4 linked regions of the Homo sapiens genome follow. The protein of the gene in region 1 interacts with the protein of each later gene in a pairwise test. Each region holds a gene or a part of one and is shown in the gene's direction. Other genes may lie near its edges. The genes, in order: DNM1L, MIEF1, SCG3 and MPC2.

The links.
Region 2: the proteins of DNM1L (region 1) and MIEF1 interact in binary tests that used the Homo sapiens proteins (3 or more experiments, as listed by UniProt).
Region 3: the proteins of DNM1L (region 1) and SCG3 interact in a two-hybrid assay, tested with the Homo sapiens proteins (one study listed by BioGRID and IntAct).
Region 4: the proteins of DNM1L (region 1) and MPC2 interact in binary tests that used the Homo sapiens proteins (3 or more experiments, as listed by UniProt).

What each region holds. Positions count from the first base shown.
Region 1 is NC_000012.12:32,682,268-32,689,302, forward strand, and holds part of DNM1L (dynamin-1-like protein), read left to right. Parts: intron 1-7,035. UniProt on the Homo sapiens protein: Functions in mitochondrial and peroxisomal division.
Region 2 is NC_000022.11:39,505,290-39,512,324, forward strand, and holds part of MIEF1 (mitochondrial dynamics protein MIEF1), read left to right. Parts: intron 1-4,132; exon of another isoform or gene 4,133-4,282; intron 4,283-5,998; 5' UTR 5,999-6,005; coding exon 6,006-6,149; intron 6,150-6,559; coding exon 6,560-6,737; intron 6,738-6,942; coding exon 6,943-7,035. UniProt on the Homo sapiens protein: Mitochondrial outer membrane protein which regulates mitochondrial fission/fusion dynamics.
Region 3 is NC_000015.10:51,676,846-51,684,503, forward strand, and holds the start of SCG3 (secretogranin-3 isoform 1 precursor), read left to right. Parts: upstream 1-4,657; 5' UTR 4,658-4,910; coding exon 4,911-4,992; intron 4,993-5,671; coding exon 5,672-5,724; intron 5,725-6,233; coding exon 6,234-6,279; intron 6,280-6,373; coding exon 6,374-6,589; intron 6,590-7,658. UniProt on the Homo sapiens protein: Member of the granin protein family that regulates the biogenesis of secretory granules. Acts as a sorting receptor for intragranular proteins including chromogranin A/CHGA. May also play a role in angiogenesis.
Region 4 is NC_000001.11:167,916,162-167,920,094, reverse strand, and holds the end of MPC2 (mitochondrial pyruvate carrier 2), read left to right. Parts: intron 1-4; coding exon 5-116; intron 117-1,735; coding exon 1,736-1,772; 3' UTR 1,773-3,420; downstream 3,421-3,933. UniProt on the Homo sapiens protein: Mediates the uptake of pyruvate into mitochondria.

The sequences.
Region 1 (7,035 bases):
GATTACAGGCATGCACCACCACGCCCGGCTAATTTTGTATTTTTAGTAGAGACAGAGTTTCTCCATGTTGGTCAGGCTGGTATCCAACTCCCGACCTCAGGTGATCCACCCGTCTCGGCCTCCCAAAGTGCTGGGATTACAGGTGTGAACCACCCCGCCTGGCCTAAGAATCACTTTGAAACTAAGTTTCCTGGATCCTGTCTCCAGAGATTTTGATTTTATAAGCCTGGGTTGGGTGAGGGACCATAGGTGATTCTGATACAGATGGTTCCTAGATCCTAATTTGAAAAACATATTAGTGAATCATTGGATTTTAAAATGCATGATACTGGAAAAAGCAGGAAAATTAGGGGAGGTTGAATCTATGGCATACTACCATCCAGTACCATGCTGACTTTGGTGGCATTCTTGCTTTAATATATCACTTCCCAGGCAACCATTGCTGACCCCTAAATGTTTTAAACTTTGGTTTTATGAAATGCCCAAGTAACACTCATTTGGGGGCTAGGGACTTGGAGGAGTGGAGGTGAGGGAATCCTGTTTACAGCTATCAGTCATTCACATGTTTTATGTGTTAGCTAAATAAATTGCTTTTATTTTTTCTAGTAGAGACCATCTGTGTGAAATGAACAGACACAGTGGGGAGAGAGAGAAGGCTGATGATACTTTTAGACCATGGTGTAACTTTGCAAGTAGAGGAGATAAGACTTAAAACAACTTTTGTGACTCAACTTGGGAAATTTAATCCTATTTCTTAAATTAAGAATTGGAAAGGGGAGCCCTCCAGGTATGTAATCTAAACTACCACCCAATATAGGTATCCGAATACAGATGACATTAACCTGAGACTCTGGCTTAGTGTTCCTAGTAATGTACTTTACACTTTTCCTTTTATTTCAGTGATTTCAGCATTCTATCTTCAGTAATTCAGACAAATGTAAAAGGAAAAACAATTTGGATTTTTTATTTTTATTTTTTTAGGGTCTGGCTCTTTCACCCAGGCTGGAGTGCAGTGGCATAATCCATAGCTCACTGTAACCTCAAATTCCTGGGCTCAAGCAGTCCTCTTGCCTCAGCCTCCTGAGTAGCTGGGACTACAGGCACGCATCTGGCTAATTTTTTTTTTTAAATTTAAAATCGCTGCCTTACTATGTTGCCAAGGCTGGTCTCAAACTCCTGGGCTCAAATGATCCTCTTGCCTTGGCCTCCCAAAGTGCTAGGAGTATAGGTGTGAGCCACTGCACCTAGCCTAAAAATAATTTGGATTTTATTTTATTTTATTATTTATTTTTTTAGAGATGGAGTCTTGCTCTGTTGTCCAGGCTGGAGTGCAGTGGTGCGATCTCAACTCACTGCAACCTCCGCTTCCCGAGTTCAAGTGATTCTCCTGCCTCAGCCTCCTGAGTAGCTGGGATTACAGGTGCATGCCACCACGCCCAGCTAATTTTTGTATTTTTAGTAGAGATGGGGTTTCACTGTGTTGGTCAGGCTGGTCTCGAACTCCTGACCTCATGATCCACTTGCCTTGGCCTCCCAAAGTGCTGGAATTACAGACATGAGCCACTGTGCTCGGCCTAATTTTTGTATTTTTAGTAGAGACAGCATTTTACAACGTTGGCCAGACTGGTCTCAAACTCCTGACCTCAAATGATCTGCCTGCCTCAGCCTCCTGCTGGGATAACAGGTATGAGCCACCATGCCCGGCCAGTAATTTGGATTTTAATTTCTAATTTGCAAATCAACTTTTAAAAATTTAACATTAAAAATACTGAAATATTCATGTAACACAAAATTCACCCTTATAAAGTATACACAACTCAGCAGCGTTTAGTATGTTCACAAAGTTGTACCACCATAGTGTAATTCCAAAATATTTTCATTACCTGAAAAAGAAAACTCCTGCCCATAAGCAGTCACCCCCGTTTTGTCCTCCCCCAGCTTCTGACAGGTTTTGATTTTATAAGCCCCACGTGGGTGAGGGTCCATCGGTGACTCTGATACAGATGGTTCCTAGATCCTAATTTGAAAAATATATTAGTGAATCATTGGATTTTAAAATGCATGATACTGGAAAAAGCAGGTATCACTGGCAACCACTAATCTACTTTTTGTCTGTATGGATTTGCCTATTTGGGATATTTCACATTAGTGGAATCCTATAATATGTGATTTGATCTTTTGTGCCAGGCATCTGTTGCTCAACATAATTCTTTTTTTTTTTCTTTTTTGAGACAGAGTTTTGCTCTGTTGCTCAGGCTGGAGTGCAATGGCACAATCTCAGCTCACTGCAACCCTTCACCTTCCGGGTTCAGGTGATTCTTCTGCCTCAGCCCGGATTACAGGCGCGTGCTACCGCACCCAGCTAATTTTTTTGTATTTTTAGTAGAGACGAGGTTTTGCCATGTTGGCCAGGCTGGTCTCGAACTCCTGACCTCAAGTGATCTGCCTGCCTCAGCTTCCCAAAGTGCTGGGATTATAGGCATGAGCCACTCAACATAATGTTTTTTAGGTTCATCCATTATGTAGCATGGCAGAATAATAAATATTACATTGTATAGATACAGCACAGTTTATTCATCAATTGATGAATTTTTGGGTTGTTTCTATTTTTTGGCTATTATGAATAAATAATGCTCTGCGAACATTCGTTTACAAGTTTTTGTGTGAATGTGTATTTTTTTTTTTTTTTTGAGATGGAGTCTCGCTCTGTCACACAGGCTGGAATGCAGTGGCGTGATCTTGGCTCACCGCAAGCTCCGCCTCCCGGGTTTACGCCGTTCTCCTGCCTCAGCCTCCCGAGTAGCTGGGACTGCAGGTGCCCGCTACCACGCCCAGCTAATTTTTTGTTTTTAGTAGAGACAGGGTTTCACCGTGTTAGCCAGGATGGTCTCGATCTCCTCACCTCGTGATCCACCCGCCTCGGCCTCCCAAAGTGCTGGGATTACAGGCGTGAGCCACCGCGCCCGGTCAGTGAATGTGTATTTTTGATTCTCTTGGGTATATATCTAAGCGTAGACTTGCTGATTCATATGATAATTCTTACGTTTAACTTTCTGAAAAACTACCAAAGTGTTTTCCATAGTGGCTGCACCTTTTTTTTTTTTTTTTTTTGAGACAGGGTCTCACTTTCTCGCCCAGACTGGAGTGCTGTGGCGCTATCTTGGCTTACCGCAACCTCTGCCTCCCAGGCTCAAGGCGTTCTCCTGCTTCAGCATCCTGAGTAGCTGGGATTACAGGTGCCCGCCACTACTGCCCGGCTACTTTTTGTATTTTTAGTAGAGGCGAGGGTTTCCTTATATTGGTCAGGCTGGTCTCGAACTCCTGACCTCAAATGATCCACCCACCTCGGCCTCCCAAAGTGCTGGGATTACAGGCGTGAGCTGCTGCGCCCAGCCGTGGCTGCACCATTTCACATCCCCTCCAGGGTTCAGGTTTCTGCACATCCTTATCAACACTTGTTGTTATCTTTTTTTTTTAAGCGCTAAATCATTCTGGAATTCTTTATTTGAAAAACAGCACTTTTTGACACCTATGCCATTTCCTTCTCTTATGGACAACTTTTTTCATAGTTTGATGTCCCTCTCTCTTTTTTTTCTCCATGAGCACTGCTGTCTACATTTTAGCATTTATTGACTATAATTTAATTCCTGCTTATGCATTGTTTTCTTGTGTTCTTAGATAAATTTATGTTTTTCTCTTTTTTTGTATAGATTATGAGCTGCTGCTTTTTTTTAACTTAACAAAATTGAGGTGAAATTTGCAGAACATAAAATTAGCCTTTTTTTTTTTTTTTTTTTTTTGAGATGGAGTTTTGCTCTTGTTGCCCAGGCTGGAGTGCAATGGCGCGATCTCGGCTCACAGCAACCTCCACCTCCCGGGTTCAAGTGATTCTCCTGCCTCAGCCTCTCAAGTAGCTGGGATTACAAGCATGTGCCATGCCTGGCTAATTTTGTATTTTTAGTAGAGACAGGGTTTCTCCATGTTGGTCAGGCTAGTCTCAAACTCATGACCTCAGGTGATCCGTCCACCTCGACCTCCCAAAGTGCTGGGATTACAGGTGTGAGCCACTGTGCCCAGCCAAAATTAGCCCTTTTATAAAATGTATAATTCAGTGTCATTTAGTGCATTCATAATGACATCTCTGTCTAGGTCCAAAACAATTTCATCACGAAAGAAAACTACTATTGAGCTGTCACTCCCTCTTCTTTCTTTTCCATTTAATGGCTGAGTAATATTCTGTTATATGTATAAACCACATTGGTTTATTCAATCACCTATTGATGAGCAATTGGGTTGTTTCTGCCTTTTAGCTGTTGTGAATAGTGCTGCTGTGAATATTGGTGTACAAGTATTTGAGTACCTGTTATCAGTTATTTTGGTATATACCTAGGAGTAAAATTACTGGGTTCTATGGTAATTTTGTTTAACTTTTTGAGCAACCACTTTTCCACAGCAGCTACACCATTTTAAAATTCCCACCAGCAATGTTTGAAGGGTGCAGTTTTTCTGTATCTTTGTCAACATTTGTTATTATCTGTTTTTGATTATAGTCATCCTAATGGGTGTGAAGTTTTGTTTTGCATTTCCCTAATGACTAATGGTGTTGAACATCTTTTCATGTGTTTGTTGGGGTTGTCTTATTGTTGAGGTTGTAAGAGTTCTTTTTTTTCTTTTTTTTTTTTTTTTTTTGAGATGGAGTCTCGCTCTGTTGCCCAGGTGGCCAGGCTGGTCTTGAACTCCTGACCTCAGGTGATCCGCCTGCCTTGGCCTCCCAAAGTGCTGGCATTATAGGCATGAGCCACCACACCCGGCCTTGTCTTTTTGCTTCCTTGTTAGTGTCCTTCAATACACAAAAGGTTTTACTTTTGGTTAAGGCTAATTTATCTTTTTTTTTCCTTTTATTGCTTTATGGTGTCATATCTAAGGCATTGACAAATCCAAAGCCGTGAAGATTTTTTTTTATTTTTTAATGTTTTTTCCCCTAATTATTTTATAGTTTTGGCTTGTATATTTAGGCTTTTGATCCATTTTGAGTACATCTTGGTATGGTATGAGGTAGGGGTTCATTTCATTTTTTTTGCACGTGCTTCTCCAGTTGACCTAGTACCATTTGTTGGAGAGACTGTTCTTTCCCCATTGAATAGTCTTGGCATTGTTGAAAATCAGTTGAGCAAAGATTTTGTTGTTGTTGTTGAGACAGGGTCTCACTCTGTCACCCAGGCTGGAGTGCAATGATGCAGTCTTGGGTCACTACAGCCTCCACCTCCTGAGTTCAAGCGATTCTTCTGCCTCATCCTCCCAAGTAGCTGAGACTACAGTCACCTGCCATCACGCCGGGCTATTTTTTTTGGTATTTTTTTTTAGTAGATACGGGGTTTTGCCATGTTGGCCAGGCTGGTCTTGAACTCCTGACCTCAGGTGATCCATCCACCTCGGCCTCCCAAAGTGCTGGGAATACAGGCATGAGCCACCATGCCTGGCCAGCCAAAGATTTATTATATGGGTTTATTTCTGGATTCTCAGTTCTATTCTGCTTTGATTACTGTAGCTTTGGAGTATATTTAAAATTTGAGAAGTGTAACTTTACCAGCATTGTTTTTCTTTTTCAAAATTGTTTTGGTTGTTTGGGGTCCCTTGTCATTCAATATGAATTTTATTTTATATTATTTTATTTTGAGAGGTAGTCTTACTCTGTCGCCCAGGCTGGAGTGCAGTGGCGTGATCTCGTTTCACTTGCAGCCTCTGCCTCCTGGGTTCAAGCGATCCAACCACCTCAGGCTGCAAGTAGCTGAGATTACAGGTGCCCACCACCATGCCTGGCTAATATTTGTTTTTTTAGTAGAGATGGGGTTTCACCACGTTGGCAAGATTGATCTCAAACTCCTAACCTCAGGTGATCTGCCCACCTTGGCCTCCCAAAATGCTGGGATTACAGGCGTGAGCCACTGTGTGGGCCCCGTATGAATTTTAGATTTGGCTTCTCCATTTCTGTAAACAAGACAGTTGGGATTTTGATGGGGATTGTGTTGCCTCTATAGGTTGCTTCAGGTTTTATTGGCATCTTAACCATTTTAAGTTAGAATTTTTGATGGGGAGGTTTTTTCTTTTAGCACTTTATCTTACTGCCTCTGGCTCCTATGGTTTCTTTTCTCTTTTCTTTCTTTGAAAACAAGTTTATTAAAGTAAAGGAATAAAAGAATGGCTACTCCATAGGCAGAGCTGCTGTGGCCCCTATGGTTTCTGATGAGAAGTCTGTTGTATCTGTTGTTAGTCTTACTGAGGATCCCTTGTTCATGACTCTTAGCTTCTCTCTTGCTGCTTTTAGCATTTGTCTTTGTCTTTCAACAGTTTGATTATAATTTATCTCAATGTGTGTATTTCTTTGTGTTTATCCTGCTTTGAGTTCATCGAGCTTCTTGGATGTGTAGATTCATATCACTTTTTCATGCTTTTATGGAAGAAGTGGGGATTTTCACAGACGATAATTCTGCCTTATCAGATATCTGAATCTCTCTCTTAGTGATCTAGAAAGCACTGGACCTATAGTTTTATAACCAAGAAAAAATTCCTTCCTAAGGACTGTTAGGTCTGCAGTATTTTAGAAAGTTTGGATTTTGGGTATTAAGTTCATATAAGAACACTCTTTTAAGCCAAGTGTGGTGGCCTGTGCCTGTAGTCCCTTTTACTTGGGAGACCTGGTGGCAAGGCTGCTTGAGCCCAGGAGGTTGAGGGCTGTAGTTCACTGTGATTGTGCTGTGAATAGCTGCTGCACTCCAGCCTAAGCAACATAGTGAGACCTGGTCTCTTAAGAACAAAAAACACCCCACATATTAACTACAAATTATGAAGTGGTTTAAACTTCATATTTATATTTTGTCATTAGGTAGAGGGTTTGAGCTATATGGTAGAAACATTGTAGTTTAGCTATTTTATTTTATTTTATTTTTGAGGCAGAGTTTCGCTCTCGTTGCCCAGGCTGGATTGCAATGGCGTGATCCTGGCTGACTGCAACTTCTGCCTCCTGAGTTCAAGTGA
Region 2 (7,035 bases), on another chromosome or scaffold:
TCCTCCCTTCTCAGCCTCCTGAGTAGCTGGGACGCCAGGCATGTACCAATGTGCTCAGCTAATTTTTTATTTATTTATTTTTTTTGTAGAGACGGTCTTGCTATGTTGCCCAGGCTGCTTTCAAACTCTTAGCCTCAAGCGATCCTCCCACCCTTGCCTCCCAAAGCTTTGGGATTATAGGTTCAAACAGCTCTGCCTGTCCAGAAACTGCACTTTGTAGTCTGGAAACTTAAGTCTGATGTGGCCAGCATGGTACCCCTGTAAGGCAAATAGCCAGAGTTGAGGCTGGGCCTGGTCTGGAAGGACGTTGACTCCAAGTTGAGATTGTAATGTATATCTTCTTATGTGGGGACCATCACAGCTCTGTAAACAGAGGAATGACATAGCCACATTTGTATCGTAGAGGGAGCATACCAGTGGCAGTGTGAAGAATAAATTGATGAGAGATACTAGAGGCAGTGGATGTAGCCAGATCAGATTGAGGGACCGAGGGGTGGGGGTGGCCACATATAAACACAGTGTGTACAGCAGTGGGACTTGGTGATCAGTTGGCTGAGGCAGGAGGAGGAGAGAGAAAGATGAAGAGTAACTGGGTGTAAGGCCTGCCAGCTGGGTGGAGGGTGCTGCTTTTAACTGGGGGAGGGAAAGTAGGAAGAGAGCCTTATGTAATGACTTTTGGTTCTTCTCAGCCACTTAGGATTGGCATATCTGCCTTTGGCAGTACAGGGCCAGGGGTGGGGTGATGCCCATGGGAGCCTGTCTGCACAGGGAGGGTTGGCTAGCGGATCTAGGAGGGAATTAGGGCGTTCCTTGAAATCTTTGTGTTCCTAATATATTTTGGCTGTGAGTTGGGCTACACGCTGCTATCACTACCCCCTCAAAAAAACCAAGAAACAAAACGCCGTAGAGTTAATACTTCATTCCCACAACATATACTCCCTATGCATCAAACACTGCACACCCTGGGGATGCAGCAGTGAATGAGCCCAAATGTCCCCCAGAAGCATATGGTCTGGGGGTTAATGGAGTGGAGATGGGAACAAGGTGTGGAGCAAGTACCTAGGACCCCTGTAGATTAGTTCTCCGCACCGCGTGATCTCAGGGTTCAAATCTTGGTCACATACTTTACTGACACAGTGACCTTGGGTCAGTTACAGAAACTACTCAGTTTCTTCATCCTTTAAATTTGGGATAATATTACTGATCTCATGGGATTGTTGTTGTGAGGATTGAGGGAATTAATAATAAGTGTAAAATTGCCAGCACATAATACACACTCAATATCTGCTACCTAGTCTCGTACATACTCAAGCAAGATAGGTTTATAAAAAGGCCTATGGCTTTTTCAATTAAAATAAGTTGGAACTTTCACACTTCTGTGCTGTCATCCTAGGAAGCCGCAAGGCCTCCATTATTCATCATCCTTAACTATATTAGGGTGATGAGCATTTCTGTTCCCATTTTTGTATCTAGCGAGACAGGTTAAATAACTTGCCTGAAATATTGGCAGAGCTGAAATTCTCCATCCCTAGTTCTGCCCACCAGGTCTGTGTTCCTTCTTTGTTTTTTATTTTAACCATCTTAACCATTTTAAAGTGTACAGTTCAGTAGTAGTAAGTATATTCACATTGTTGGGTAACAGAGCCCCAGAACCCTTTTCATCTGGCACATCTGAAACTCTGTACCCATTAAGCAATGGGGTTCCTTCATGACAGTCCCGATTGGAGGTGGAGTTCTTACCTGCTAGTAGGCTGTAAGCTTATGCAGCAGAACCTGAGTGGAGAGCGTGTCATGGAGAAGCAGTTTAAACTGGAACAAGTTGAATTAACTTTTCAAGTAAGGTCCGTGTCTGTCTGTTGAGCTTGTGGATGCCGTCTTCTGTTCCAGGTCACCAGGTCTGTGATGTCAGTCCGTCCTTGGATGGTGGGCGGGGGGTGCCTATTGCACTACAGTAGGAAAAGCCTTTTTTTCTTGAGATGGAGTCTTGCTCTGTCACCCAGGCTGGAGTGCAGTGGGTGCAATCTTGGCTCACTGCAACCTCTGCCTCCCGACTTCAAGCGATTCTCCTGCCTCGGCCTCCCGAGTAGCTGGGACTACAGGCGCCTGCCACCACACCTGGCTAATTTTTTGTGTTTTTAGTAGAGACAGAGGTTCACCGTGTTAGCCAGGATGGTCTCGATCTCCTGACCTCGTGATCTGCCCACCTTGGCCTCCCAAAGTGTTGGGATTACAGGCGTGAGCCACCGTACCCGGCCGAAAAGGCTTAACAAGCTGGCCCAACTTAATAGTTTTGATCTCAGCTGTTGGCTCACGCCTGTAATCCCAGCACTTTGAGAGGCCAGGGTGGGCAGATCACCTGAAGTCAGGAGTTCGAGACCAGCCTGGCCAACATGGTGAAACCCTGTCTCTACTGAAAATACAAAAAATTAGCAGGGTGTGGTGGCTCATGCCTGTAATCCCAGCTACTAGGGAGGCTGAAGCAGGAGAATCACTTGAACCTGGGAGGTGGAGGTTGCAGTGAGCCGGGATTGCCCCACTATACTCCAGCCTGGGTGACAGAGTGATACTCAGTCTCAAAAAAAAAGAAAAAATAGTTTTGATCTCAAGTCCAAGATGGCATCACTGCGAATTTTCAAGGCCGTTTTAGAGCAGTCTCAAAAGGTGCACTGTCACTCAGAGGACAGTCTGGGTTGCTGACTGACTTCTGGAAGCTGACCTTTGTCCTGTGGATGGAAATCTTAAAAGACTAGAGGAGAACTCATTTGTGGAGCACTTTTACAGTTTATAGACCATCCACTGCAATACAGTTTATACCGTTCACATACAGGATTGCAGTGAATGGTTTTTCCTCACTACAACCCTGTGATTTGGTCCCACGCGGGGACCATTATCCCCTTTTCGTAGCTGAGGTGTTAAGTAACTCATTTGAGGTCACCCAGCTAATAAGTCAGGGCTCAAGGCAAGTTCTGTATCTCAGGATTTCTGACTCTAAAACCCACGCTCTGTTCTGTCATCTGTAGCACCACCTTGCTCTCACCAGTCATCAGAAGGGCACCAAGGACTAAAATGGTCCAGGGAGGCTGCTTCTGCCCTGAGTGAGGAGGTGCCCTTCTGGCCCTGCTGCATCACACTCAAGGATCATTTAGAGGGCACATGTGTCCAGTGGCTCTCCCTATTGTAAATATTTCAGTAAAGAGTTAAAACAAGAGACATTGTTATGTGTGGGGAAATGTATAGTGTTCTGCTTTTCTCCTGATTGGGTTATCTTGCCTCTGCTAAGTTTGGTTTGTCCCGTCTCTATCTCAGTGGCCACTGGAGAGAGGGTGTCTGCTGTTCTTCCCTGATTCCACCTGTAAATACAAACGTTATCTCTTCTCCCTGGCTTTGCTCTGTGCATTTGAGGTGGGAATGTACTCGGTTTGGCGAAATAGTCTTTCATGTCCCTAAACCTGAAGCCTCTATTGACTGTAAATGGTAGAGAAAAGGAAAGTACCCCCAAGGTGTGAACTCTAGTTAGGGAAAAAAATATTTTTGGGCTTGACAGTGACTCTTAGTTAACTCAATTACTGGAATAATAGAGTCAGAAATATTTCTTTGTTTTTCAGGGAGGTAGAGGCAGGAGCGTAAGATGTGGAAGCTAGAAATATCCACTTGTAACACGGTATTAGAAGGAATGTTATTTTACATGGAAGATAATCCTCAGTGATCCTTTTTTTTTTTTCTTCAAGACGGAGTCTTGCTCTGTCACCCAGGCTGGAGTGCAATGGTGATTCTCCTGCCTTGGCCTCCCGAGTAGCTGGGATTACAGGCATGCACCATCATGCCTGGCTAATTTTTTGTATTTTTAGTAGAGATGGGGTTTCACTATGTTGGCCAGGCTGGTCTTGAACTTCCGACCTCGTGATCCACCCACCTTGGCCTCCCAAAGTGCTGGGATTACAGGTGTGAGCCACCGCGCCCGGCTGATCCTGTCTCTTGATGTCCTCCCATTCTGGGACGCTAAATGGTATCCGACTTTGTTTTCCCTTATGTCATTCCTGGTGTGAAGGACACGGGATATTATAGAGGAGAGTGGCAGCATGCTGAGTGGTATTCCGATCTGAATCACACTGTCATCCTTTATCCGGCTCAGGCCCAGGGTTCTAACTCCACAGGAATGGGCTTATCTGGGGACTGCTGCTGCTGCAGTCAGGAAGACTCCACTGTAGTCGGGAGCAGCACTGGCCTGAGCACTGCACTGGAGGCCAGCCTCTTCGCTGTGGTGCCCAAGTACTTCTTTCAGGTGAACACATTTTTAGTTCCTCTTCCAGGTGTAATCGAGCAGATGGGTGTTTTGTTTTCCAGTTAGCAGTCGAGTCTGCAGTGTCCTTTGTGTTTTTTATCTCCCGGTATACCAGTCTCACCTAAGCTTTTATAGTCCCCGCTGCGCACTTCTCTCAAGAAACAAAGCATTTGTCAAGTAGGAGGGTCCATGGAGGGACCTTTCTCACATATGGACGTGTAGTTTCAGTTCCGTGTGCAGGATGTTTGGTACATGTTGTTTTGTGTTTTGTTTGCAGAAAGTAGATAGAATAAGGGCCGATTTGATTTGGGTAAGGGTGAGCATGGTACAGTAGAAAAAGCGTCATACAAGGAGTGGGGAGTCCTGAGTTCTGGAGATGACTGTGTCGTTTTGTTTTCGTTTTTGAGACGGAGTTTAGCTCTTGTTACCCAGGCTAGAGTGCAATCGTGTGATCTCGGCTCACTGCAACCTCCGCCTTCCGGGTTCAAGGGATTCTCCTGTCTCAGCCTCCTGAGAAGCTGGGATTACAGGCATGCGCTGTCACATCTGGCTAATTTTATATTTTTAGTAGTGACGGGGTTTCTCCATGTTGGCCAGGCTTGTCTTGAACTCCTGATCTCAGGTGATCCGCCTGCCTCGGCCTCCCAAAGTGCTGGGATTACAGGCGTGAGTCACCGTGCCCGGCCCATTTTGTTTTTTTATTTTTATTTTTAAGAGATGGGGTCTCACTCTGTCACTGAGGCTAGAGTGCAGTGGCGTGATCATAGCTCACTGTAGCCTCAAACTCCTGGGCTCAAGCATTCCTCCTGCCTCAGCCTCCTAAGTAGATAGGACTACAGGCATGTGCCACCATGCTCAATTTATTTTTATCTTTTACTTTTGGAGATGGGGGTCTTGCCATGTTGCTCAGGTTGGTCTTGAACTTCTGGCCACAAGCGATCTTCCCACCTCAGCCTCCCGGGTAGCTAGGATTATAGGCATGAGCCACTGCGCCTGTACCATTTCTTTTCTCTGAGACCTGACACATCACCTCCCTATGTTGAGAACCTCTGTGTGAGGTGATGTGATGGCATTAGATGAGCTCCAAGGTCCCGCTCAGATCTAACCTTCCACAAAGTAGTGGCCAAAGGACGAAGAAATGACCTGCATTATAACCCCTGTGATGGGGTAGAGAGACCTGCTTTATAACCTCTGTGAAGGGGTAGAGAGACCTGCATTATAACCCCTGTGAAGGGGTAGAGACCTGCATTATAACCCCTGTGAAGGGGTAGAGACCTGCTTTATAACCCCTGTGAAGGGGTAGAGACCTGCATTATAACCCCTGTGAAGGGGTAGAGACCTGCATTATAACATTGTGAAGGGGTAGAGACCTGCATTTTAACATTGTAAAGGGGCAGAGAGAGGGCTGTTTTGCATGGTGGGGTACTTCATTGTAATACAAAAAAGGACTGACACTGAGCTTAATGCTTTCTTAATCTCACTAGCTTGGGGAAAGTTTTCCTACAATACCCAAGATCAGCCCCTCCTCCTTGCATCCTGATCTATCATGGGACATTGTAGCTCCCTCCAGACCCTAAAGCATGCAGTGCTGGAGGCAAGAAGATTTGGGTTGCTGGAACTCACAGAGTACCCTGTACTTGTTGGGGTTTGGCTTGTTAGGGGAGGGAGGTTCTTGGGGTCCCAGTACTTATGGCCGTGTTCTGTCTTCATTCTCAGATGAGCAATGGCAGGCGCTGGTGAGCGCAAAGGCAAGAAGGATGACAATGGCATTGGCACGGCCATTGACTTTGTGCTCTCCAATGCCCGGCTGGTGCTGGGGGTGGGTGGAGCGGCCATGCTGGGCATCGCCACGCTGGCAGTTAAGCGGGTAAGTGCATGCAGCCAGGGCTGGGGGTGGAATGTAGTGGTATGGTCATAAGATGTAATGTTTTATAGAAAGAAAATGTCGAAGCGTTCTAGGAGGAAATGATCGCAATGATAAGTGAAAAAAACAGGTTTCAAAAGTATGTATAGAGTGATCGTCATTACATGCATCTAGAAAGAAACATACCAGATATTACAAACAGTTTTCTCTGGGTCATGACGTGGATTATCTATGTCTTATATCATGTAGTCTTCCCTGAGATTTTCTGCGTGGAGCAAAGTATTCTATAATCTAAAATAAAAACAAAATTACTAAAAGAACTTACTAGGACAGAGCTTCTGGGGAGGAAGTAAATTGGAAGGAAATAGGGAAAGAGGGCAGGTTTATGTCCTGTGTCCTCTCTGCTATTTCAGATGTACGATCGGGCGATCAGTGCCCCTACCAGCCCCACCCGCCTGAGCCATTCGGGGAAAAGGAGCTGGGAAGAACCCAACTGGATGGGCTCCCCACGACTGCTGAACAGGGACATGAAGACGGGCCTGAGCCGGTCCTTGCAGACCCTTCCCACAGACTCCTCCACCTTCGACACAGGTGAGAAGGGCTGCTGCCCCTCCTGGGACCTCTCTGGACTTTCAGTACCACTCCTGCACTCAGCAGATGTTTCCTGAGCACATCTGTGCCAGGCACTGTGCCAGCACTTGCCCTCCATGCCAGGCCCTTCTTTCTGGGGCTGAGGCAGCTGTGGACTGAGCAGGCATGGGCAGAGCTCACGTGCCTCTCTCTCTTGCCTTGGCAGATACATTCTGCCCGCCCCGGCCCAAGCCAGTGGCCAGGAAGGGCCAGGTAGACTTGAAGAAGTCACGACTCCGCATGTCCCTGCAGGAGAAAC
Region 3 (7,658 bases), on another chromosome or scaffold:
CTGGCATGCGCCACCATGCCCAGCTTATTTATTTATCTATTTATTTATTTATTTATTTTGTGGGGGTAGGAGAGATGGGGTCTCCCTATGTTGCCCAGGCCAGTCTCAAACTCCTGGACTCAAGAGATTCTCCTGCCTCAGCCTCCTTAAGCGTTGGGATTGCAGGCCTGAGCCCCTGCGCCCAGCCACACACACTTTCTATAATAGGAAACACATTGCTGATAGGCAACCTGATATTTTCACTCAATAATGCTAATTCATTTTAAATACTATATTTAATGGTGTCATGTGCATCTGTTGTTTTCTGTTTACTTTATAGCCTCACCCTGATTCCTTCTGGGAAGCCATTCTACCCTTGTGGTTCTGGAGTGAACACTCAAACATAGTTCTTGCATCTTCCTCCTATGCCCCCAGGGTAGGTGACTGACCCAATCTGGTTCAACTATGGTACAAGCAAGATAAGTGAACAAGACAAGTTTACTACTTTCTCCTCCTACCCACTCTCAGATTTATTTCTGGCACCTTTCAGTCTGTAGGTGGCCTATATGATCTTGTCATTTGGGCCCACTTTCCTTATTCATGTGCCCTTTTCTTTTCATTTCCATGCCTTCACTTTCCTTAAGTCTTGTTATTTGCTCATTTACATTATTCTTTGTTATTTCAACTTTCCTCTGATGGTGAATTTCTAGATTTCACATTTATTTCTCCTTTCGTCTATATCAGCAGCCACCTCTAGTGCTGGCATCCTGTGTCAGTCTCTTTCACAGCAACAGATCCATTCCTATAACTCTGTAACTGCAAGGGCCTTGCCAGCTCAGGCTCTCTATTCTTAGCCCTTTCATGAACATCTCTTCTGTGAGACTACGCCTTTGTAATGAAAGTGCTGAGTGGAGAATTGTCCTGACAGTGTCAAGATCCTCCAATGTGGGATAGCCATCATAGCCTCAGGATTTGAAGACCAAAGGTAAACAGGAAACCCCCCATCCCTTCATTTATTTAAGCAGATGGATTTCTAGACACTGTAAGAAGGGCTGAGAAATCAAAGATGAGTGAAACAAGATCCTTTCCTTGAAAAATTCACAGTCTAGTGTGGTAGAAAGCCAGATATGTAAGCATGTAATCACAGTGAGAGATATAATTTTATAAATATATGTGTAAAGTTTTCTTAGAAAAAATGTGCAACAACAGGACATACCCCTAAAGTTTGCATTGGTTATCACTATCAGATATTTCCCCTTTTTCCTTATCTGTATTTTCGGAAGTTTTTCCTTCAATATGTATTTATTATTTTGGAAATAAGGAGAAAGAAAGCATCTACACAAAGCAGCATATGGGATATATGCCCAACTGGGAGTGTGCATGGTATCCTGAGGAAGAAATGATCTCATCTAGGAAGTCAAAGAAAACCTTGCAACATCTGCCCTTCCATTCTTACTCATATGTGTCTCTCACATGTCAACCAAATGCAATCGTGGTTCAAGTAAACCAACTGTAAAAATATTTACAGTATGAGGCAAGAGGGGGAAATTTGAATCTGACTGGATATTTGATGATACTATGGCATTATTATAATGAGGAGGAGGTATGTTAAAAGCATTGCAGTAACATTAGAAAAAATAATCCTTATCTTTTACATAAATATACTGACATACTTTGACATACTTATGGATGAAATGGTATGAAGTCTGGGTTTTTGTTGTTGTTGTTGTTTGTTTGTTTGTTTGACAGAGTCTCTCTCTGTTCACAGGCTGGAGTGCAGTGGTGTGACCTTGGCTCACTGCAACCTCCACCTCCCGGGTTCAAGTGATTCTCCTGCCTCAGCTTCCCAAGTAGCTGGGACTACAGGCGCGTGCCACCACGCCCAGCTAATTTTTGCATTTGTAGTAGAGACGGGGTTTCACCATGTTGGTCAGGATGGTCTCAATCGCTTGACCTCATGATGAAGTCTGGGGTTTTTAATGGATAAACAACTCATTGGGGTATGAAGTGGACGGAAATATAGAATAAAAAGAATGGTCATGAGTTAATGATAATTGAGGTTGGGTAGTGGATTCATGCATGCTTATTTCAATATTTCCTCTACTTTTGTGCTTGAAATTTTCTATAAAAATACAATAATAATTAATATATTTTTTCTGTAATAAATGAAAGCATCCTACAAATGTCTCTACCTTCAAGACTCAGCTCAAAAATAATATTCTCCACTAGTGAATGAGCGCACCACAATTGTTCCATTTGTGTTGACAAATGAACAAGCAGCATTGACAAACTCACTGTGCATTGTACATTGTTGATTTAATAATTATCTGATCTGTGTCAATGTTATTTGTCTTGTAATTTCAACATATATTTTCATATTATTCCATGTTTATAGTGTTCTCACACATAAGAATCAAATATTTTAATCTTTTTATTATTAATAAAAGGGCTGTCTTCTCTTTGAAATCTTTCCTGACCATTCATTCCATTATTTGGACAGACTCTACTTGAGCTTTGCAAATACAAAAAGGACACATAACACTCTCTTGTACTTATTCATTCACTTATATTTCAATAAGAATAGTGTGTTGCATGTGAAACCTGTTCACCAAATAGTTGTTGTTATATTCACAATATTTTCTCTCTACTAGGCTATAGGACTAGCAGTGACTAGTGTCTTACTTGTCTTTGTACACCCAGCAACTATCTCAATACCTGGTACATTTCAGATGCTCAATAAACACCTGTTAAGTGAATTGATGAATAAATACAATTTAGGATTACTCCATTCACAGACCTATACTAAGTCCAGTGGTATCATCCATAAGGCTGAATAATGTAAACTAATTCATGCCTATGTTTTACTCAATGCTCCACCACTCATTTGATCAGAAACATAACATGATCCTAGATTTAGTGTCCATTTAACATAATCACTTTAAGTCCAAATGGCAGAAAGAGACAAAATACCCTTTTTCTTTTGGGCAAGCAATGCAATGTACTCAACAGACATCCCTGACCTTCATCCCATCCTGAATCTCTCCCAATTGCAAACATGTATTGAGGAGATAAATGAGTCAGGAATGGGACAAAGGACAAAGTGAAGCTGAGGGATTAGGTCAGTGAGTCTCAGGATCAGTGAATGGCTATTTCAGATAGCGTTGGGTAATGTTTCATAAAAGCTGAAAACGTTTCATGACTTATTTTCTTAGGCTGTATCAAAATATTCTTGGTATCAAAATGACTAGTTCAAAACATGTACCCATTTGATCTTCATAATAACAGTGTGAGGTAAACAGAGCCTGTCATTTCCATCATAAAGAAAAGGAAACTAAGGAAATATACCCTTCATTCAGCTGGGATTTTAAAATATGACTTAATTTTTTAATGCAGTATACTGGGATAATAATGCTATGTTATTACTGCCAATAAAGAGTTTTTTGTTTTGAAGGAGCTGTTAGATTTAGAATACTCTTTAGATCCTCAAAGGAAGTATTTGAGTGACTTCCAAACTCAAAAACCTCCGGAGCAAGGGAGATTTGTTTGTCAGCTTGGTTGTTTGTTTGTTTTTAGGTACTTGAATAACTTCCTCCTTGAAAAGGAGGGTGCAGAAATCAAAGGCCTGATTGTGCTGAATCCTTCTCTTTGGTCATTATTCAGACTGGTTCCCAGCATGCCGCAGTCCAGAGGAAAAGGTCCAAGTTCTGTTTAAAAATCAGAGACTAAAGAGCTTACTCAGCATCCTGCTCACATTAATGTTGCTTGTTTTCATCATTTAAAGTCTTTTGATAGTTCCTTGTATACAATAACCTTAGGCTTCTGGGAATATTCTCAGAACATAGGAAGCACCTCCCTGACTTAGTAAAGATGAAAAATGCTTTTCATGACTATCCCCTCTCTTGAAGGACCCCCTGGAACAGCCAGGTCTTTGGGCATAATTAAATTCTGGGCAAGATTTTACAGAAATGCAGCTTCTTTTTTCTAATTTAGTTGTGTGGTGTGTGTGTGTAAAGTGGGGGAGGTTCCACTTGGTGGGGAAAGGAGAATTTGCCATTGCTGCTCGTCTACTCAGGACTGTTTCTGTTGTTGTTGTGTTTCAGCATCAGAGAGTGAGAGTGTATTGCAGCAATCTGACTATTTGGAAGACTGTTCCTTGAATTTCCCAATTCAAAAGCCTCGGTAGAGCTGAGGGATGCTTGATACGTCAACACAGACCACAAAAGGCAGGGCTTTTCTAAAGAGATTATAATTATATCTACCTTTTGGGTACAGGAGGTGAATGGAAGGAAGGGATTCTGGAGCAGATATCCCAAAAGAAGAATCCCGAAGCAGAACTCCTCGCACAAGGTTATCTAAATCTCCTTGACAGGTGCACAGGCAGAGAAGGCATTTGGCCCTTGAAGTAACATTTACTTGAGAGGTTGGGACAATTCTGTCACGCTTAGGACAAGCCAGCTGACCCTGAGCCCAGGAGCACCCTAGGACTGCAGCACAGAAAATACACCAGCTGGCCGGTCGCCCCTCCTTTGTTCCATTCCCGGGGGATTGGAGTAGCGTTGGAGTCACCGACGCCATCCCCTCCCGCCTCTGGCGTGCATGGAGCATGCGCTTCCTTCCTCACTTCCTCTGCAGGAGGGAGCGAGAGTAAAGCTACGCCCTGGCGCGCAGTCTCCGCGTCACAGGAACTTCAGCACCCACAGGGCGGACAGCGCTCCCCTCTACCTGGAGACTTGACTCCCGCGCGCCCCAACCCTGCTTATCCCTTGACCGTCGAGTGTCAGAGATCCTGCAGCCGCCCAGTCCCGGCCCCTCTCCCGCCCCACACCCACCCTCCTGGCTCTTCCTGTTTTTACTCCTCCTTTTCATTCATAACAAAAGCTACAGCTCCAGGAGCCCAGCGCCGGGCTGTGACCCAAGCCGAGCGTGGAAGAATGGGGTTCCTCGGGACCGGCACTTGGATTCTGGTGTTAGTGCTCCCGATTCAAGCTTTCCCCAAACCTGGAGGAAGCCAAGGTATGTGAACACTTTTCTTCTTCCTACCTTCCTTTTATTTCGCCACGAAAAGGTAAAGTTTGGCATAATACGTGAGCTGTAAATCACCCTGACGCGTTTTCTGATCAAATCATATCCATGAATACGGACAGAGAAATCAGTTCGAATTTAGAGACAGAAGACAGATTTTTTTTCTTCACTTTTAAAATGATAGAGCAATAATATGGGTTGTTTTTAAAGATCTTATTTTGAAAAGGGAAGGGAACCTTTTTCACCTAAAGTGGCTTGGATTGTTTTCTAGTTGCCTTACAACCTTTCTCAGACAGTCTATTCATTATATATGCAGTATATGATGAAAGAGCTTTTAGTGTGCCAATAATACCAATCCAAATTATGCTCTCTCTAGCTGAGAATAGCTGATAACCCTAGTGTTAGAACTATATGTTAAATTTCTGGTCAGAAAAAAAAAAAAGTGTGATTCTGTCAGCTCAAGAAATACACCAAGATAATAAACAAGGCAATATTGATAATTACTATTATTGTATAATCTTGATAATCTTTGTTAATATGCATTTGTTTCATAGTCATCCAAAATTATTTCTCCTAATATTTTTCCTTTTTATAAAAATTTTATTTAATAAGAGGCATATTTTGTCCTTCAACGCACAATTAAATTTATATTCACATGTGTTTATTCTAGACAAATCTCTACATAATAGAGAATTAAGTGCAGAAAGACCTTTGAATGAACAGGTAGGTCAAAAGTAACATTATGAATGCTATTTCATTTTGATTTAGTTATTATTATTTAATGTAATTATGCTGTGACATTTTGGTCATTTTGAATTTACAAACATCAGGAACTTAATAGTTAATTGACAGAAATTAGGACGGGAAATCTAGTTTTGGTAAATTCTATGCCCTAGCAGTTATTTACATTGAGTTCTGTATAATGAATACATAGAGTAACTATATAATAACCCAGTAAGCTCAGCATCACATCCACTCTGTTGTAAGATTGCCTAATTTACCAGAGATTTCTCTTTCAACAATATTATAGGAGAAAGAAATTAACACTGACTGAGCATCTACCCTTAATTTTATCTCATTTAATTATTATAACAGTGCTCTGAAATAGGAATTATCCACATTTTACAAACAAGACAATTAAATCCCATGGAGATTAAATCATTTGGCTCTTGTACTTGGTAAGTAGTGGAGCAATGATTTTAAACCAAGTCTATCTCCTGTTTGCTTCACAGATTGCTGAAGCAGAAGAAGACAAGATTAAAAAAACATATCCTCCAGGTAAAAAGAAATCATATTGATGTTAATTTAAATAATGTAGGCTATGAGAATCTGAACTAAAATGGCTGTGTTGGGTTTGGGGCTATTCTTCCAGAAAACAAGCCAGGTCAGAGCAACTATTCTTTTGTTGATAACTTGAACCTGCTAAAGGCAATAACAGAAAAGGAAAAAATTGAGAAAGAAAGACAATCTATAAGAAGCTCCCCACTTGATAATAAGTTGAATGTGGAAGATGTTGATTCAACCAAGAATCGAAAACTGATCGATGATTATGACTCTACTAAGAGTGGATTGGATCATAAATTTCAAGGTAAATGAGAAAAAAAGAACTTTTTGTTAACGTGGAGTTTCCTATAATGGGTTAAGAGAAAGTCCAATATTTTAAAAATATCTTTTAAACATTCATAATCCTTTATTAGTCAAGTCCAAAATTGAGATAAAGCATATATTTACTGATAACATGTAGAGCCCCAGCTCCACAGAGTGCCATATTTTATTTTCCCTTTAAAAATTCCTTTAGTGATGCTCTGAAAACATTTTTTAATCTAGTATTTGTATTTTATGGTATTAAATTCATTTGAACATTCAGATTTATTTTAACAATGAGTACACACAAAATATCATAATTTTCAAATAATTAGATCAGTAAAGTACCCTCCCACCCTGCACAAAAAAGGTGAAATATCCACTATTTCCTTTTCAGTGTTTCCTCCTAGCCATATCTTTTCTCCTTAGGTCATCCTAACCTTTACGTGGCTTCAATTACATCTATATCCTAACATCCCATATCACTAGGCCAGACTTCTCTTAGCTATAGACCTATTTATCTGTTTACCTATTCGACATTTTCCCTTGGCAGTGTCAGAAGCACCTCAAATTTAGCATGCCCATGATTAAACTCATAATCTGTGTCCACTTCACAACCTAGACCTCTTAGAGTACTGTTTCTTTAGGAAAGGCACTACTATCCATCCAGTTTTTTAAAGACAGAAATCTAGGATCAAACTATTTATCTTTTCCCTCACCTCTCAAATTCTAATCTGCCAAAACTTACTAATTTTATGTCTGTGTATCTCTCAATTGTTTTTCTCTGTACTTGTCCAAACTCCAATCCTTGTCCAAGCTCCAATTATGTCTCATGTAAACTATAGCAAAATCTACAGTTCTCCCAGCAACCACTCCGCCTCTCCCCAACTCATTCTTCATTTGGCAGCCAATGTGGTAGTTTCCTTACCCGAAGTCAGGAGTTCAAGACCAACCTGGCCAACATGGTGAAACCCCATCTCTACTAAAAATACAAAAATTAGCCAGGAGTGGTGGTGGGCACCTGTAGTCACAGCTACTTGGGAGGCTGAGGCAGGAGAATCACTTGAACCCAG
Region 4 (3,933 bases), on another chromosome or scaffold:
ACAGGGTTTATTTGGTCAAGATACTCACTTGTAATTATTCCAAAAAATTGGAGTCTGTTTGCTGTTAATTTCTTTGTGGGGGCAGCAGGAGCCTCTCAGCTTTTTCGTATTTGGAGGTAAGCCTACCAGAGATATTTTTAAAACTGTTGCAAAAGCTACTTAGATGGCACTAATTTTTTTTTTTTTTGAGACGGGGTCTCGCTCTGTTGCCCAGGCTGGAGATGGCACTAATTTTTTTAAAAGATTCATATATAATGCTAAGACAAGAAGTATCTAAAGTAGAAATTTAACATTTCTAGAAAAGTCTAGGGGTTTACAAATAAGTTAACCAGTTAACTAGTTAACTGACTAAAATCAGTTAAGCAGTATGTTACCTAGTTTTTAGATTTAACTGTGCATCATTTAGATGGTTAACCATCTCACATAATCTCTTTTATTAAGACAACATATACAGTTTATGATTTATTAATTTCTTATGTAAACCTTTTATCACTTTCAATTGTATATAATAAATTGGAACTTAAGTGTATTGTTATGTAGTATTGGAAATGATACGTAGAGTGAGGTCTTTGCTTTCATTGGAAAGTGTTCCATGAGCACTGGAAATTTTTAAACTATTTACTCAGTAGTTAATATTGTCAGTGATTTATGATAATGACATTATGATCAAATATTTGAAATCAGGATCTTTTGAGAAACCTAGGAGGTATGGTTGGCTTCATGGAATAAGTTCCTTCTTATGCTTTTATACTACTCTCCATTCCATTATAAGCTAGGAGGAATAGTAAATGAAGCCCAAGGTATGGTAGAAGGGAAGGAAAGACTATGGCTCTGTGGTTACTTCTTTGGATTGAGAATTGAGGAAATGGTCCTTAGCGTTTGTGAACTTAAGTGTTTACAGGCTGTTAACCCAATAGCCTGCCTGCATCACAGAAGTATATTTTACCTTAGTGGTTAGAAGTATATTTTACTTTAGTGATTACTTTAGTATATTTTACTTTACCTGTTGATCTTATTCTTAGGAAAGGTGCTTTGCGAGTATAAATTTTAAAATTCTAGGTGACCACATTTTACTAAATTTTATACATATGTTCACAAGTTTGTCACGTTCTTGTAGAATTCCAGAATGAGAATATTTTTATTAAAATAATACTTTTGCACAGGAAACTATATGTCAGCTAAGCTGTTAAAAGTTTTTGGCAGGCCGGGCATGGTGGCTCACTCCTGTAATCCCAGCACTTTGGGAGGCCGAGGCAGGCAGACCACAAGGTCAGGAGATCGAGACCATCCTGGCTAACACGGTGAAACACCATCTCTACTAAAAATACAAAAAATTAGCCAGAAGTGGTGGCGGGCGCCTGTAGTCCCAGCTACTCGGGGGGCTGAGGCAGGAGAATGGCGTGAACCCGGGAGGCAGAGCTTGCAGCGAGCCGAGATCACACCACTACACTCCAGCCTGGGCGACAGAGTGAGACTCCATCTCAAAAAAAAAAAAAAAAAGTTTTTGGCAGTTGTGCTCTTATTATCTGAAACAAAATCCAGATGCAAATGAACTCTTTGAATCCTTTCCTTTCTGCCTGTTTCTACCTGTAAGCCCTCCGGGAAGATTCTGTTTACAACTGTATAGCTACTTGACCACCAAGAAAGAAGAAATGGAGTATGCTTCCCATTCTCTCCTTACCATAAATTTGTCTATTATTATTGATGATTATTTTTCTTTCTGTTTTCTTTATAGATATAACCAAGAACTAAAAGCTAAAGCACACAAATAAAAGAGTTCCTGATCACCTGAACAATCTAGATGTGGACAAAACCATTGGGACCTAGTTTATTATTTGGTTATTGATAAAGCAAAGCTAACTGTGTGTTTAGAAGGCACTGTAACTGGTAGCTAGTTCTTGATTCAATAGAAAAATGCAGCAAACTTTTAATAACAGTCTCTCTACATGACTTAAGGAACTTATCTATGGATATTAGTAACATTTTTCTACCATTTGTCCGTAATAAACCATACTTGCTCGTATATACCCCCTGCCTCCTTCTGTTCCAGTCAGCCAACATATGTACATAAAAGAACACACAAATTCAAGAAGTTGGAAGATTAAATTATCTGCTTATTTAGTGTAGGATGGTCAGGTAGCTAGCTATAAGTGAAAGGAAATTTTGCTGAAGAGACTGAGAAATGGGTAGTGGAATGACTATCAAGATGACCTCAAACTATTTAAAAACATTTTAACTTGCCATGAAGAATCTTGATGATTTTTGTATAAATGTTGTATAAAATTCTTTTACAGCTACAGATTTTTAAATAGGATCATTGTAAAGATTAATGAGATAATGTTTTAACATAGTGCCTGGTCCATGATAAGTGTTAAATTTTTCAATTACCCTCAGTAACTGATAATGTAGCAGAAAATACTCTATATTCAGACAGACCTGAATTTGAATCCCAGCTCTATGACTTATCTGTTGTGACTTTTTTTTTTTTTTTTTTTTTGAGACAGGGTCTCGCTCTGTGGCCCAGGCTGGAGTGCAGTGGCACAATCTCGGCTCACTGCAAACCCTACCTCCTGGGCTCAAGTGATCCTCCTGCCTCAGCCTCCCGAGCAGCTGGGACTACAGGCACACACCACCACACCCAGCTAATTTTTGTATTTTTGTAGAGGTAGGGTTTTGTCATGTTGCCCAGGCTGGTCTCGAACTCCTGGGCTCAGGTGATCTGCCCGCCTCGTCCTGTCAAAGTGCTGGAATACAGGCATGAGCCACCATACCCAGCCTATGCTGTGACTTTAGACAAGTTAGGAAAGTACCTAGCAGAGTACCTGGGACATAAGTAGGTTTTCTGTAAATGTTTGTGACCTTTGGCTCCGTTGTGAGGAGAGACTGAGCATACATTACTCCACGCTACAAATAATTAACTATCTATTTGATTTGACTTTCAGTGTGGAGTGCAGAGCTTTTTTTCTAAAAGTGCTAATAAAGCCAGTCCTCATTAAAAATATAGTCAGATGAGTCAGCAAAGCAAGTTATTTCAAAATTTGAAGAAATGAGACAAAACAACTTTTTGAGTAATACTATAACCTATGAAAATTTGGCAGTTAGCAATTGAAAACCTTGTACTTTATCATCTGTCCCTTAACCATGGCCTACCATTGAGGAGAAAAGATTAGAGAGCTTGACATAGGCCACAATGAAGAGGTTCTGAAGAGTCAAACTATTATTGCTTTCATTTCATAAACCACACTGTTAAATTCATTTGTGTGTTTGGCATGGGTGTGCACACATGTGTTTCCTAGGTTAAGCATTTAGGAAAAACATTATGAAATATGACATAGACACAAAAAAGTTTATTAAAAATTTATGTGAGCTTGGTGTTTCACTTCCTTTTCATTAAAACCTCTTCTGTGCGGGGTCTCCTAAGCCCCTCTTGTCAGTCAAATTTGTTGTAGCATTTAGATACAATCATAGGCAGTCCTCCTTTCTTGTTTCTCAGAAGTTTCATTGACAAACAACCATCACATGCTTCTTTTCTTTTCTGCCCCAAAACTCTTAATCTATCCAATTTTTTAATCTTAAAAATTAAATCTTGGCCAGGTGCGGTGGCTCACGCCTGTAATCCGAGCACTTTGGGAGGCCAAGGCAGGTGAATCACCTGAGGGCAGGAGTTCGAGACCAGCCTGGCCAACATGGTAAAACCCCGTCTCTACTAATAATACAAAAATTAGCTGGGTGTGGTGGCGCACGCCTGTAATCCCAGCTACTCCAGAGGCTGAGGCAGGAGAATCACTTCAACCCAGGAGGCGGAGGTTGCAGTGAGCTGAGATCGCGCCTTTGCACTCCAGCCTGGGCGACAAGAGCAAAACTCCCATCTCAAAAAGTAACAATATGTATCCTGTCAAAAACTCTCATTGCCACTTGGAACACATAGCCTAG